2 linked regions of the Homo sapiens genome follow. The protein of the gene in region 2 purifies or fractionates together with the protein of the main gene of each other region. This does not show direct contact. Each region holds a gene or a part of one and is shown on either strand. Other genes may lie near its edges.

What was found.
Region 1: the proteins of NOL10 (region 2) and AATF purify together in Homo sapiens (affinity purification with mass spectrometry; 5 studies listed by BioGRID and IntAct, with this or other methods). This does not show direct contact.

What each region holds. Positions count from the first base shown.
Region 1 is NC_000017.11:37,049,954-37,056,994, reverse strand, and holds the end of AATF (protein AATF), read right to left. Parts: intron 4,741-7,041; exon of another isoform or gene 3,833-4,740; intron 395-3,832; coding exon 331-394; 3' UTR 124-330; downstream 1-123. UniProt on the Homo sapiens protein: Part of the small subunit (SSU) processome, first precursor of the small eukaryotic ribosomal subunit.
Region 2 is NC_000002.12:10,588,953-10,595,993, forward strand, and holds part of NOL10 (nucleolar protein 10), read right to left. Parts: intron 800-7,041; coding exon 626-799; intron 339-625; coding exon 91-338; intron 1-90.

The DNA.
Region 1 (7,041 bases), on a different chromosome or scaffold from region 2:
ACGTCAAGTCTGACATTGTATGAGGAGGCCACTGGACTAGAAAAAAAAAAGCTCAGTAAATGTGTCATCCACTAGAACCAAACCAGACTGACTCTCAGCCTCTTAAGAAATCACAAGCGGTGGTGGCGGTAACAATGCTCTTTATTTGTGGCGTTTAAAGGCGGGGTTGGGCGGGACAGCGCCCTTGCGTGTATTAGGCACAGGTTCGGAACGCAGCATCTTTCCAGGGGCTTCCCTACTAGCTCAGCCCCATAAAGTCACTGGTTTCCTCCATCTGGACCAGCAGCCGCACCAGCCAAGGCGCCCACTGGGTGTCGGAGGTGGGCGATGTCAATCCCCGTGGCCTTCGTCGGGAGGGTGGAGCTGGCCAAAAAGAGAGCGGTACAGTTCTGTCCTAAAAGACAAACACAGCAAACTGGTTAACACACTGGTTCACTATTCAAGGTTAAAAAGGAACGCAGAAGCTGGAAAATACCCCATTCTGTTTCTTCTGTTGAAAACACAGCCATGTAATTAAAAATGCACCCCACAGCTCTTACTCACAAATACAACAGAAGGAAGAAACCCAATCAAACAGTAAAATATGTAAATGGTCCAGTGCGGCTGGACACCCGTCTCCAGGGAATGAGTGTTCTGTAAGTTTGCCCTTTGCAGACAGGCTCTTCAAGTAAGAAAACAAGATTGAATATTTTAATAGGATGTAGGAGACCGCCATCCGATGAGGAGGATTCAATCAGACATGGGATGTAGGGGGATATAATTTAGTTTTCATACATTTTCTTGGACTTGGCAGTACTTGAAAAACAATGAAAATGAGCCAGCAACACGATTCCAATTACTATCATCTGTGCAGTTGTTCAGGAAGAGAACCAAGCTTCTTCCACACTCCCCAGCTGCCCTGTCTCTATTCTCAGTCTAATAAATAATATGATTGGCTAATTTATTTCTAAAGTTGGGTTTTGACATTAAAACAATAACATGCCAGGGTCTTGGGCCCCTAAAAAGAAAAGTAAATGACCACTTTCAAACTCTTTTAAATGCAACATACACACAAACATCGGCCAAAGCCATGTGTCAAGGCCTGGAAAACCTAAAAGGGGTGTGGGTGGGGCAGGGATCTTTCCTATCGTTGAGACAGAAGCTCCAGAACACTTTCCCCTGTGGATACAGAGCAGATCCTCCCTGCAGAGACATGAGGGACCCATGAGGTTCCAAGCAGGCAAGACCCGTGTGAGGACGTCCCTGTCATCAGGGAGGTGGGCGTGTAGCACGTGGCCGCAGAGGCAGCCATCCATGTCCACGCCCTGCAGAAGGCCCAGCCGGTAGCCCTCACAGAGACAGGGCAGGCGCACACAGGGCTGAGGTCATGGGCCAGGAGCCCCAGAAGAAATCTACACCTGCTCGGATATTCTCAAGATGGAACTCAAATTCCAGCCTGCCGTCTTGTTTTAAAAGTGCTCTCATCATCTGAGGGTCAGCATCGGCACATCAGACTTTAAAAGCAAAACCAAAAAACCCCACCTTTCAAACAGCAAGGCTTCAACACAAAAAACTACTGGTCTTTTTTTGAAGTCACCCTACTATAGTTATGGATAGGAATAAAGGTACTACAATTAGGAAATCCAACAAAAGGAATAGAGTATCAAAGCTTTAAAAAAGTCAAAAGAAAAACATCTTAAGGAAGAACTACAGAAGCCACAAATGTAAGCTAGCCTTATCATGTTGGGGACCGCGGGAGGGACAGGCAGTGAAAGTGCAGGCCAGAAAACAACAGGCCTCCAATTTTATTACAGGAATTTTATCCCAAGAATGTGCTGGTGCCTTCACCCTGAACTACCCAGCAGACCCCTAGGCCACAGACAAAGGACACAGCTTCCCCCTTGGCTCCACCCATCTCTTCTGCTCTTCTGTTACACACATCCATGTGACTAGCCTCAATCAGCCCAGACGAAGCCTGCCAAGGTGGACGGCAGCCCCAGACCAAATGCAAACCCACGGCTTCCAAATCAGCAGCTCCGTCACACGGATACTTCGGTGCCCAGGGCAGGCTCCACTTCATCACACCATGGCCTGCCTATTTGCCAGTAAAGACAAGTCTCTCTAGCTGTTTCCACACAAAAAATTAAATGGCGTGAAAGGGAGAGTTGCCATAACAAAAGGACAGTGTGACTTTAGGACAACAACGTCTGATGAGAAAGAAATGCAGAGGCGCGAGGCTAGCCCTTCACATCATACCCTTTCCAGCCTCGCCGCGCTTGCCTGCACCAGACCCCATCATTACCACTGAGCAAATGCTTCCACTCTGCGCGCAATATCAGTGCAACGCCTGGGCCGAAGGCAGCAGTTACTGTCCGCAGCAGGGTTCACGTGTCAGGAGCAGAGAGTGAAATGCTGAAACCCATGTTTTCATAGAACATCATTTCACACTCAGGTGGGCAAAGCTGACAAACATATGCAGCTGTTCATGGCAAAGCAACCTGGGAAGCTGAGTGGTCTGGGTTCTTAAAATATTTTCAGAGAGAGAGAATATCAATAGGGGATTATTTCAATCTAAAAGTCCCCAAGCAATTTCAACTTTTACATCTTCCTCACCCACTATCACCAGCTGGTGACCGTTTTTACCTTCAAAGCATCTCAAACTTCACAGCTCCTCCAGGCTTCCACTAGGTCAGATCTCACCGTTTCTCATGAAGCACACAGCAACAACCTCCTGGCTGACTCTTCCACTCCCTTCTCTGAGACAGACAAAGCAGACCCTCCCTGGGGCCCAGGAGCAGCATGGGGATGAAGATCCCCGCCCCACACGCCCCCCACCAGCCACCCCCACTGTAGATTCCAGCGGTTCAGCTTGGCCTCAGCCCTTCCTCTTTCCAGGTCCTGGCTTTGGCTCCTGCCCTGAGCAGCTGGGTGGTACAGGGAGGCACAGCCCTTCCTCCCTCTTTACTAGGTTGGAGAAGGTAGGGTTGCACATTTTTATAACGTTTTTCACAGTAAGTTTAAATAGTTACAAAATATATAATGACCAGGATGTTGTGAAAATTAACTTTTGTAATGCCTGCAATGGAACCTACATGCCATAATGATTTGATACTCATCGTTCATTCAAGTAACACATAAACTATTTTTTTTTGAGATGGAGTCTCGCTCTGTCGCCAGGCTGGAGTGCAGTGGCGCAATCTCGGCTCACTGCAACCTCCGCCTCCCGGGTTCAATCGATTCTCCTGCCTCAGCCTTCCAAGTAATTGGGACTGCAGGTGCGCACCACCACGCCCGGCTAATTTTTTATTTTTAGTAGAGACGGGGTTTTACCATGTTGGCCAGGATGGTCTCCATCTCTTGACCTCATGATCTGCCCGTCTTGGCCTCCCAAAGTGCTGGGATTACAGGCGTGGGCCACACATAAACTTTTTAACTTGGACATTTTATAGCACCTTTTTCTTTTTAAATTTTATTTCCACCTGACTTTTCCCTACAGAGTTTTGTCCTAATATAATGGTTTCATGCTTGAATGTCTTTTATCAATCACCCTTATCATACTTCTTGGCCACATTAGTCTGTAAATAAAAGCACTTTTGAAATTTTTAAAATTCAAAAAATTGAAATGAAAATATTTTAATTGTTTGACATTATAAGGCTCTAAGTAGTTTAAAAATGTTCCTCTGGATTATTATTAGGATATAATCAATATATAATAATATGATATAATATATCCTAATTTTAGTGAAAATTTAGTATTCATACATGTGTAAAATGTTATTAGAAATGCATCCCTTAATGATATGGATGAGGCTTTTCCCTCCATTTGTTCATGGATCCATGGAGGAATATTATTTATTGCCAGAATGAAGGAGGGTTCAGCATCAATTCTACTCCTATTTTTTTGTTTTTTGTAGACATAAGCACTGAGAAATGTTGTCATATAAACAAGCAGATAGGAATGACAGAGTTCTGGCATAGCAATGCCACTTGATTCTTTTTGCTCTTTCTGAATTATACAGCACACACAAAAAATCGCACAGTGACTCGTCCCCAAACATTAGTCCTAACGGTCAACCAACTGCCAACTCAATTCAACTCGTGTTCTCCAGCGATTCTGCTGGAAGTGAAGACCCAGAAACCACCCGGCCTGCACAGGGCTTGTCCTCTAGTCCTTAGGCGTTTGCTTTCTCAATCTCTGTACCCATATTTCCAGCTGTCCTTGGGTTTGAGGCCCTGGAGGTTTTCCTGTGGCAGCCCGAGGTCCATGTCACTTTAAGGAGGGGCTCGAGGGAGGCTTTTCAAGGCCAGAGAAGGACGAGGGTAAAAGGACAACCTAGCCCTCCAGCACAGGCCTGCTCTGGGGCAGACAGCTTTAGGAAAGAGCGTACGTCTGAAGACTGACTCCTTGACTATCTGTGTCTACCTTCCCCTTGGAAAGTCTCTGCATACCCCAGTGTGAAGACTGAGCCACAGGGTGCACTGAGCTCTTCCTCCCTCAAACCTAGGCAGGTGTCTAGGTGCTTAGGGAAAGGCAAAGACATCTGAAAAGAAACAAAACATGTCCACAGCCCTTACCCCATCCCAAGAAAAACTGCAAGTAAAGACGAGGCTACAAAAAGGTGCCACTGGACAGAGGGCCAGACCGCCTTCCACTGCATAAACATTTCCCCCCGGCTGCATCTTCCTAACTGGGATTTAGCCATGTGGAGAAGCTAAACTATCAATCCTCCAGGTTAACCTTGTTCCATCAGATTCTCCAGGGTAAGTGTGTAGTTTCATACCTGAGGTCCCCTTAAGGCTATGCATAATCAACTTTTTAAAAAAACACATAATTCCTGCTCCCCATCACATTAAGAATCAAGATGCAAATCACTGATCTGTAATACCCCCACCCCCCAGCACACACACACTCATGGTCAGTGGGAGTGTCCACTGTAGACAATGCGTTCATGCTGGTATCATGCAGGGGAGCAGCCTGCGGAGTAATTAACAGGACTTGGACCTGAGGTAGAAGGTCGATAGCAGGGGCTCTTCCTTGAATTAAAATTTAACTTACCCTTTATTGCAAACTACAAAAGCAAGTAATGAGCACTAACATTTTTATTTCTTTTAAACTGTCATTAAGCTGTAGAGGGGATAATTACCTATCTCTAGTGCAGTAAGGTTTTATAACCCTTAGTGAGGCATTTTCTAATTTAATATTTTTACTATATTATCTTAAAACCTGTTTCTAGAAAAAAAAATGATCATGGATTAGCCGCCATTTTCCATAAAGACAGAATGTGCGTGTGTGTGTGTGTGTGTGTGTGTGTGTGTGTCTGTCTGTCTGTCTGTCTGTCTTAGGATTCGGCTTATTTATTATGTGATTCTTCTGAAGAGACTTAAAGTATGCACATTGTAGCTAGCTGTGAACTGCAATCACTTGAGTGGCAGGTAAGGTTTTAAAAGCTCTGAGTGAAATGGGGGTGTATGTGTATGAGAATGCAGCCCCTCACCGATGTGTGGACCCAAATATGTTCCTTTCAGTTCCACATGTGCACTCACCCCACCACAATACAGATCACTGTCTTTCACGATGTCACTTGGGCAAACAGTACAAAGGAGCATATTAAACCTGCAAATAATCTGTGTGGGGCTTTCAATTTGCTAGGTCAGTAGCTTGCAGCACTGGGGATTCTGAAGGAATTGTACCATCCACTCTACAGAAAACCACACTCCTCCTACACTGGCCCTGGAACCCCCAGGCCTCCAAGACATCCCTGAGCTGTACCTACCCACAAAGACAGGTGGACAGCAGAGAGAACACAGCCATTCCACTGCTCCCCGAAAAAGCCTGTGCAGCCTCCCAAAGCGCATCATGGTCTCCGAGCAAGTATTATGTGCCAGTCTTCCAAAGGAGCTGGCGGAGACAATGCTGCTGCTTTCCAGACGAAAAGTGACTCATAGGCCAGGTATGGTGGCTCATGTAATCCCAGCACTTTGGGAGGTTGAGGTGGGAAGACCACTTGAGCCCAGGAGTTTGAGACCAGCCTGAGCAACACAGTGAGACCCTGTCTCTATTAAAAATAAATAAATACATAAAATGATACACATAATTTGCCTTTGACTAATTAAAAATTGTTCATTTGTTGCTTCTTAGGAGTGGGGGGTCTCCCTAAATACATAAGACACATCCCAGAATGTCATGGCCCTTCCTTCCTTTCTAATCCTCTACCTCTCCCACACTGCACACAAAAGTGCTGTAGCATTTGCTTCTGCCTTAACTCAATCCCATACATACATTGCAGAATCAAGGGAAAAGAAGAAAGCACACGGCAGGCAAGTCGGACAAAGGGTTCCAATCATAGCAGCACTCACGGCTAGCAGGGTCTGGATCCGATCTGAAACCCTACAAGTAGAGTCTGCCCAGATATGGTCAGTCAGCACAGAGATTCACACACACGCCTGCTCTGCACAGACCAGCGCGGTCACCAATGACAGATGTGTGCTTTTAAAATTATTGGTGATGTACTGATGCTGCCTTTTTTCACGTTTGTCTTTGAAAACAATTTGCTTAGTGTGGTGGAAGCTTAAACATGTACTAGATGTATATGATTCCTGGCCTCAAAACCTAACATACTACAGGTATAATCAATTAATTAAAAATATTTGAATGCTTATTTGAACTTTGTTAGATTTTGTGGAGGTTCACAAAGACATGAAAGGCACAGCAGAAGCTAGATCGGGAAGGTGAATACATGCAGTAAGTGTGTCTCAGACAAACCACTCCATTTGGGGAGACACACAAACATTCTTCCTCCTGCTGAACCCAATTCTGTCATTTTAGGACTTACAGCCATGGGCTCTTGTCCCTCTAAAGCCAGAGAGAAGTAAGGCTGACTACTATTCCCTGTGGCAGCACTTCAACTATTTGATGTCTTCTTCTAACTAAATCTGTTCTTTTCCGGGTTCAGCGGCCTCAGTTGCCTCCATTCCTCCTGTGACCGAGTCTGCTTGCCATCCTGACTGCACTCCTATGAGCCCTCCATTTGCCAAAGCTCCAAAAGCAAGGTCTCCAGAACC
Region 2 (7,041 bases):
ACAGAAATGTCATCTTTAGGGCAATGTGCCAGAGAGGAAAAGCAAGGGCTTGGTTACATGTCAACTGTGCGCTCAGGCAGTGCTACTCACTTCATCAGTTTCTGCTTTGTGGCAGAATCTTTGAAGCTTCTAAATTCTTCTCCTGCTTTGATCTCATAAAACTGGGGCTTTAGGACTGTCTGCTGGTCCTCCTTGAGTCGTTCCTGCCGCTTCACTTTTTCCTCCTGCTGGAGGAGTCTGCGTTGCTTCCTGACCTCTTCAACCCAGGCTTTTTCATCATCTGAACTCTCCGAACTTTCTGCATCACTTGGTTTTCCTTCCGGCTCTTCCTCCTCTTCCTGAGAATAAAAATAGTAAGCAGCAACTCCTTTCCCCCAGTCAAACACAGACCCCTTGGTTTCTCTGAAGCAGCACTGGCCCATTAATGAGTGCCTAACAGCTGCTCTACTGCATGCATCAGGAGAAATGCCTTTAAATAAATAAGATAATACTCCTAAGCCCAATGTCAAACACTTAATATGGAATTAATTACATCTCAAGTATAATCAAAGACTCTTCTAACTTACAAAGAAAACATTACATTAAAGAAACAGTAGCAAATTCTAACTGATAAGGAGTACATTACTTTTTCACGAAGTTCTTGTTGCTCTAAGAGTCTTAGTTTCTTCTTCCTTTTTTCACTAATTTTTGAAACAAGTGGATTCAGAAGCCTAAATTCTTCACTCTCTTCATCTACTTGGAAGTCAGGGTTCTCAAACATAACTTTAAATCGATCATCGGTGAGAATATTAGGAAGACTCTACAAGGAGGAAAAAGTACGTAAAAATTTAAGTTAATATCTGACTAAAATTTGACCAGAAACATGGTTTTAAAACACTGATTCTATTATAAGTTAATAAGCGGCATGAGGCATACATTATTAACTCATTATGAAATTTCTTCCAGGACTTTCAACGTGCCCCTAGGTTTTAGCTGCCACCACCAAAACAACCTCTATTAATCTACTTTGCAGATGCTCTACACCACTTGGCCATTACACACAATGAGCCAAGAATGACCCTTTTGGCTAACTTTATGCTTAACAGATTAGAAAGAATTTCTTCAATTAACATTTTAATGCAAAAAAACACCTTTCAAGAAGATACTAGGTTTTTAAAAAGTGGCTTTTATTATTTTTTAGAGATACGGTCTCACTCCAGGCTGGAGTGCAGTGGCACAATCACAGCTCACTGCAGCCCCAACCTCCTGGGCTCAAGTGATCCTCCCACCTCAGTCAGGCTCCCAAGTAGCTGGGACCACAGGTGCACCACCGCACCCGGCTAATTTTTTATTTTTTGTAGAGATGGGTCTCACTATGTTGCCCAGGATGGTCTTGAATTCTTGGGCTCAAGCAATTTCTCGTGCCTTGGCCTCCCATAGTACTGGGATTACAGGCATGAGCCACTGAAAACAGGGCTTTTAAATAAAGCTTAGTTACTACACTGACTTAAAATAAGCAATTCTTTCAACTTCAGATTCCAAAACTGGGAGAGGAGGTATACAAAGTCAGTAACTCACATGGTGGGATGCAGGAAGCTGGTGATGTCAGTTTACCGATTCCAGCTGAGTTACTGGGAAACAGAAGGGACGTTTCCATCCCCTACAGGGTTGTTTCATCAATATTCCCCCTCAGGTCAACTAATTGTTGTCAAAGGATATTGTGTATCCTTCAGATACAAAAACTTTGGCTACTGAGACCCATTTAGATAGCTCAGGACTGATACTAAATTCCTTTTTATTTGTACCATTTTCAATGGAAAGTTTTCTAAACTGTACTGTAAACTTACCTGTTCACTTAAGTAGATGACAGAGAATCTTACACATTTAGGACTGTCTTATTGTTCCTTCTCTGCTACAGGCTTGGAAGCCAGATGAAACGGCTTACTCAGAATTGTTTGTCAATCAGAGTAAACAGCCCTGAACACTGCTGGAAAAAGCTGACCTGTTTGTGATGGACTCTGACTCTGCTGAACAGACTACTTTACTATTTCTCCACTGTTGAGAGTAAACAAGATTGCAGGCAGTTGAGTTCTGAATATTATTTGTGTGACAGACCTATACAAAAGTTTAGTAAATCATAAGATATTAAGGAACTTGGCCTGTTTATTATTTGTATGTACCTAAAAACAGATAAACCCTTACCTAAAATTCTAAGATATTAAATGCAGCAAGTTTCCCTGATTAAACATCATTTCCAAGAAAGACTTACAACGAAGGGAAAAAGAAAGGTAAGATCGAGTTCCTGATCCTAAACTAGTAAGGAAGAAAAAACACTGCAAACACGTGCTACTAGGCCTCTTCTGAGGGCTGCTCGGTAGTGCTGAAAGTGCCACAGGAGAGGACAGAAAAAGGAATCCCAACAAAAGACACCCCAGGAGGGGCCCTGGGGGGTGCAGCATCAGGGAGGGGGCTTGAAAGATGAGTAGGTTTCAACAAGTAGAAATCTGAAGAAACAGCATTTCCAGCCGATGGGAGTGGTGAATAGTCTGGCGACATAAGAATGATGCAATTTCAAAACAATTTTTTGATTGGGTCATACTGTAAAGGATTTTAAATACCATGACTGTTATTTTGAAGATATAAGGGGAAACCACTAGCGAAGAGGAGGAGGGGGAGGAAGAAGAGGAAGAGAAAAAGGAAGAGAAACGAAGGAGGGAGACAGGGAAGGAGGGAGGAAGGAGAAGATGGATGATCAACAGAAGTGTGCTTCAAGACTCCCAGATGACAGAACTGGCCAGGTGGTGGTTCATGCCTGCAATCTCAGCACTTTGGGAGGCTGAGGTGGGAGGACTGCTTGAGGCCAGAAGTTCAAGACCAGCCTGGGCAACATGGTGAGACGCTGTCTATACAAAATATAAAAAATTAGTCAGGCGTGGTGGTGCATGCCTGTAGTCCCAGCTACTTGGAAGGCTGAGGTAGGAGGATCGCTTGAGCCTGGGAAGTCAGGGCTGCAGTGAGTTGAGATCACACCATGTACTCCAGCCTGCGTAACAGAGAGACCTTGTCACAAACAAACAAACAAACAAACAAACAAACCAACCCAAAATTGTGCTTCAAAAGTCTGCAGCAGCCTGATGTCTGACGGACTGCTGAGTAAGAAGTTAGCATCATGAGAAGACTAAGAAGCCATTTTAAGAAACTGGCAAGAGAGACAGGGCCTGAATTAGGGCAATGGGAACAGACAGTTTTTAAGAAAGAATAATTACGAGATACAGTTCTAAATTAGAATTGACAGATCCAGCTATGGAGATGGGAGGGTTAAGAATTAAAAACAGGGTTAGAAACTTCTCTCAAACATGTAGCTTAAGCAACCAGAAAGCTGGCGACACTGAGTTAGAATCCATCACTGGAGAGCATTAGGAAAAAACGCAGGGGTGGAGTAAAGGGGAAGAAATCACGCTCCATTTAGGGCTGCCTATGCCTGTGGCACAGGGAGAAGAGCACCAGGATTCAGACGGACACCACTAGGTGTCTGGGAACGATGCGCCATGTCTCAGGAGAAGGGAGGGGGCTATGATGTAAATTTTGGAGTTATCTGTAGATATCGGATAGATGATAGTGTGAAAGATAATTTCAAATGAATAACTATGTGCCTATTACACATTTTCAGGTTAAAAAAACCCAAGGGCAAATATTTACTTTTCATCTTACTATATTTATTAAAGTAATAATCATATTTAATAAATAGAGAAAATGTTACAAAGACTACATATGTTGCTGGTATTAAGATTTTTTTCTTAATTTAAAACAAATCAATTGCATTGCCTAAAGACAAGTATGCTTTGGATGAACAACTATAAAATAAAACCTCTTCTGACCCAGCTTGTAAAAATATTTCCCTCAGGGTTTTTTCCTAGTCTGTTTGTTTTCACAGCTGTCTTAAGGAAAAAAGTAGGATAAGGTATAGCTATTAATGTTCTATAGGAGCTTACAAGTGTCTGGCTAGTGATCCGTCCTATAAATACCCGTCTACACATGCTCAACTTTACCATTAAAATATAGAAAACATTAAAGTACTATTCATACCACAGTCCTACCTGGAAGAATGGTATCTGTCTACCTGAGTGGGACGCCTATTATTATTTTGTTCCAACATAGTAACATATATGAAGAATGATTGCCATTTGAAACAAATTAGTTTTTTTTTTTTTCTTTTTTTTCTTTTGAGATGGGGTCTTGCTCTGTCACGCAGGCTGGAGTGCAGTGGTGTGATCTCGGCTCACTGCAACCTCTGCCTCCCGGGTTCAAGCGATTCTCCTGCCTCAGCCTCCTGGAGTAGCTGGGATTACAGGCACGCGCCACCACGGCCGGCTAATTTTTGTGTTTTTAGTAGAGACGGGGTTTCACCAGTTGGTCAGGCTGGTCTCAAACTTCTGACCTGGTGATTCGCCTGCCTCGGCCTTCCAAAGTGCTGGGATTACAGGCGTGAGCCACTGCACCCCGGCCAATCAAATTAGTTCTTTCAATGCTATGATACCTATGAAGTTAGGCTGGTACAGACTTCTGAGTAAAGATGGTGGCTTGAACACTAGTATCTTCTAATCTCTCCTAAAACTTCACTAGAACAACAGAAAAGGAGCTTTATAAAAAGGGCATAAACCCTTAAGAAAAAAAGGAAAGGAAATAGGGGTAATAAAAATTTGGAAGCCAGAAAGAAAGCCTATTTAAAAATCACACCCCAGCTCTGGAAAGCCTGGCCCCAGCCCTTTCCCACGGAGAAGTTGCTTGGCTGAGGCTGGCACTGCAAGAGCAAGAGAGGTGTGCTGGCCACAAGGAGGGGAGGGCAAGGCTGGCACATGGGGGTGAGGTGCCCTCTGGACCCCTCCAACCTCTTGTGACCTACAGTGGTCAGTTCTAGGAATGCTGGTAGCCAGGCCTTTACCCCCCCAAGCAGGAGGACCTGACCAGCCAAGAGAAAGACCTAAGAGACAATGACATGTGCAGTGTCCTTCCCCAAACAGTGTGGCCAAGTCACTGCACACTGACTGAGGGACCCTGTCCCCACCTAGAGTTTTCATTCAGTTTTTTAACTCTCTTATTCCTCACTGCCAAAAAATAACTATGGATCATGGCAGGAAAAACTAATTGAAATTTTCTTTCAAGAAAATTCCCCAGCACTGAAGACCGAACTTCTAGACTGAGATGGGCTTGCAGCACAGTACAGTCGCTTCGTGTCAGGTTTCCCAGGACGCTTCCTCTTCCTGGGCTTACACTGTTATTTTAGAGAAACAACTCCCCTAGCAACTTCCCGAGGAAAAGCAGCATTTAAGGGGAATTGGTTGTTGTTGAGAACTTGCATGTCTGAAAATATCTACCATACCCTCACATTGACTGACTGCTTGCCTAGGTTGGAAACTATATTCCTTCAGGAAACTGAAGGTTCTTGTAATTCTCTGTCCAACATGGGCTGAGGTGAAGTGAATCCCCAGGATAATGGTAAAGGGAGGTCCCGGGATTAGAAGGTGACCAGGCTAGAATGGAATGGGGCAGAAAATTCTAGAAGCAACTTCTTCAGGAAGGTAAATAAGCATAAGTCTAACCTATCTAAACACCTCAAAATAAGACTTAGAGAACTGACATAGAATTGGGTGTTGATTAGTGATAACTACATAGAAAACGAGCAAGAGAGACAATTATTAACTTCAAAGTACACAAAGATTGAACAAGAAATGCAGTCACAGATTACTACTGACTCGGCTGGAAATAGCACTTACGTAGGCCAGGCATGGTGGCTCGTGCCTGTAATCCCAACACTTTGGGAGGCTGAGGTGGGAGGATCTCTTGAGCTCAGGAGTTGGAGACCAGCCCGGACAACACAGTGAGACCTCAGCTCTACTAAAATATATACATACATATATATTAGCTGGGTGTGGTGTGCACCTGTAATCCCAGCTACTTGAGAGGCTGAGGTGAGAGGATCACTTAAGCCCGAGAGACTGAGGCTGCAGTAAGCTATGATTCTGCCACTGTACTCCAGCCTGGGTAACAGGCTCTATCTCAAAAAACAAAAGTACAACAATGTAATGCTGAATACCAACTTAATCAAAATCACAATATAGCTTCCTTGGAAAGGAAAGTTATCAAAAGATAATGCCTAACACTAAAAAGTTAAGAGGTAGGACTACAGGCAAGAGGGAGGGAGGGGGAGGGGGCAGAGAGAGAGAGAGAGAGAGAGAGAGAGAGAGAGATTTATACCAAAATAATCAGCAAAAAAGGCAAAAGTGGTTGTCTGAGAAGAGGTGAAAATGGAGGAAGGCAGAGGGAGGAAAAGGGGCAGACAATGGGATGGCCTACATTCCTAACAAACCTTGGAGAAATGTTTAGGTTTTTTTTGTTTTTGTTTTTGACAGAGTCTCACTCTGTTACTGGGCTGGAGTGCAGTGGCACAACCATGGCTAACTGCGGCCTTGCAGGGAGATCCTCCCACCTCAGCCTCCTGAGTAGCTGGGACCACAGGCATGCACCACTACACCCAGCTAATGTTTTGTAGAGATGCGGTTTCACCATGTTGCCCAGGCTGGTCTTGAACTCCTGGGCTCAAGTGATCCTCCCTGCCTTGGCCTCCCAAAATGATGGGATTACAGAAATGTTTTTTTGTTTTGTTTTGTTTTTGTTTGTTTGTTTGTTTTTTGAGATGGAGTCTTGCTCTGTTGCCCAGGCTAGAGTGCAATGGCGTGATCTTGGCTCACTGCAACCTCTGCCTCCCAGGTTCAAGCAATTCTCCTGCCTCAGCCTCCCAAGTAGCTGGGATTACAGGTACGCACCACCACACCCAACTAGTTTTTCTATTTTTAGTAGAAATGGGGTTTCACTGTGTTGGCCAGAGTGGTCTCAAACTCCTGGCCTCAAGTGATCTGCCTGCCTTGGCCTCCCGAAGTGCTGGGATTACAGGTGTGAGCCCATAATGTTTGTGTTAGGCACTGTGCCCAGACTGAAATGTTTAGTTTTTAAAACTATGCATGTATAACTGTAATTTAAAAAAAACAAAAATTTTAATTGATA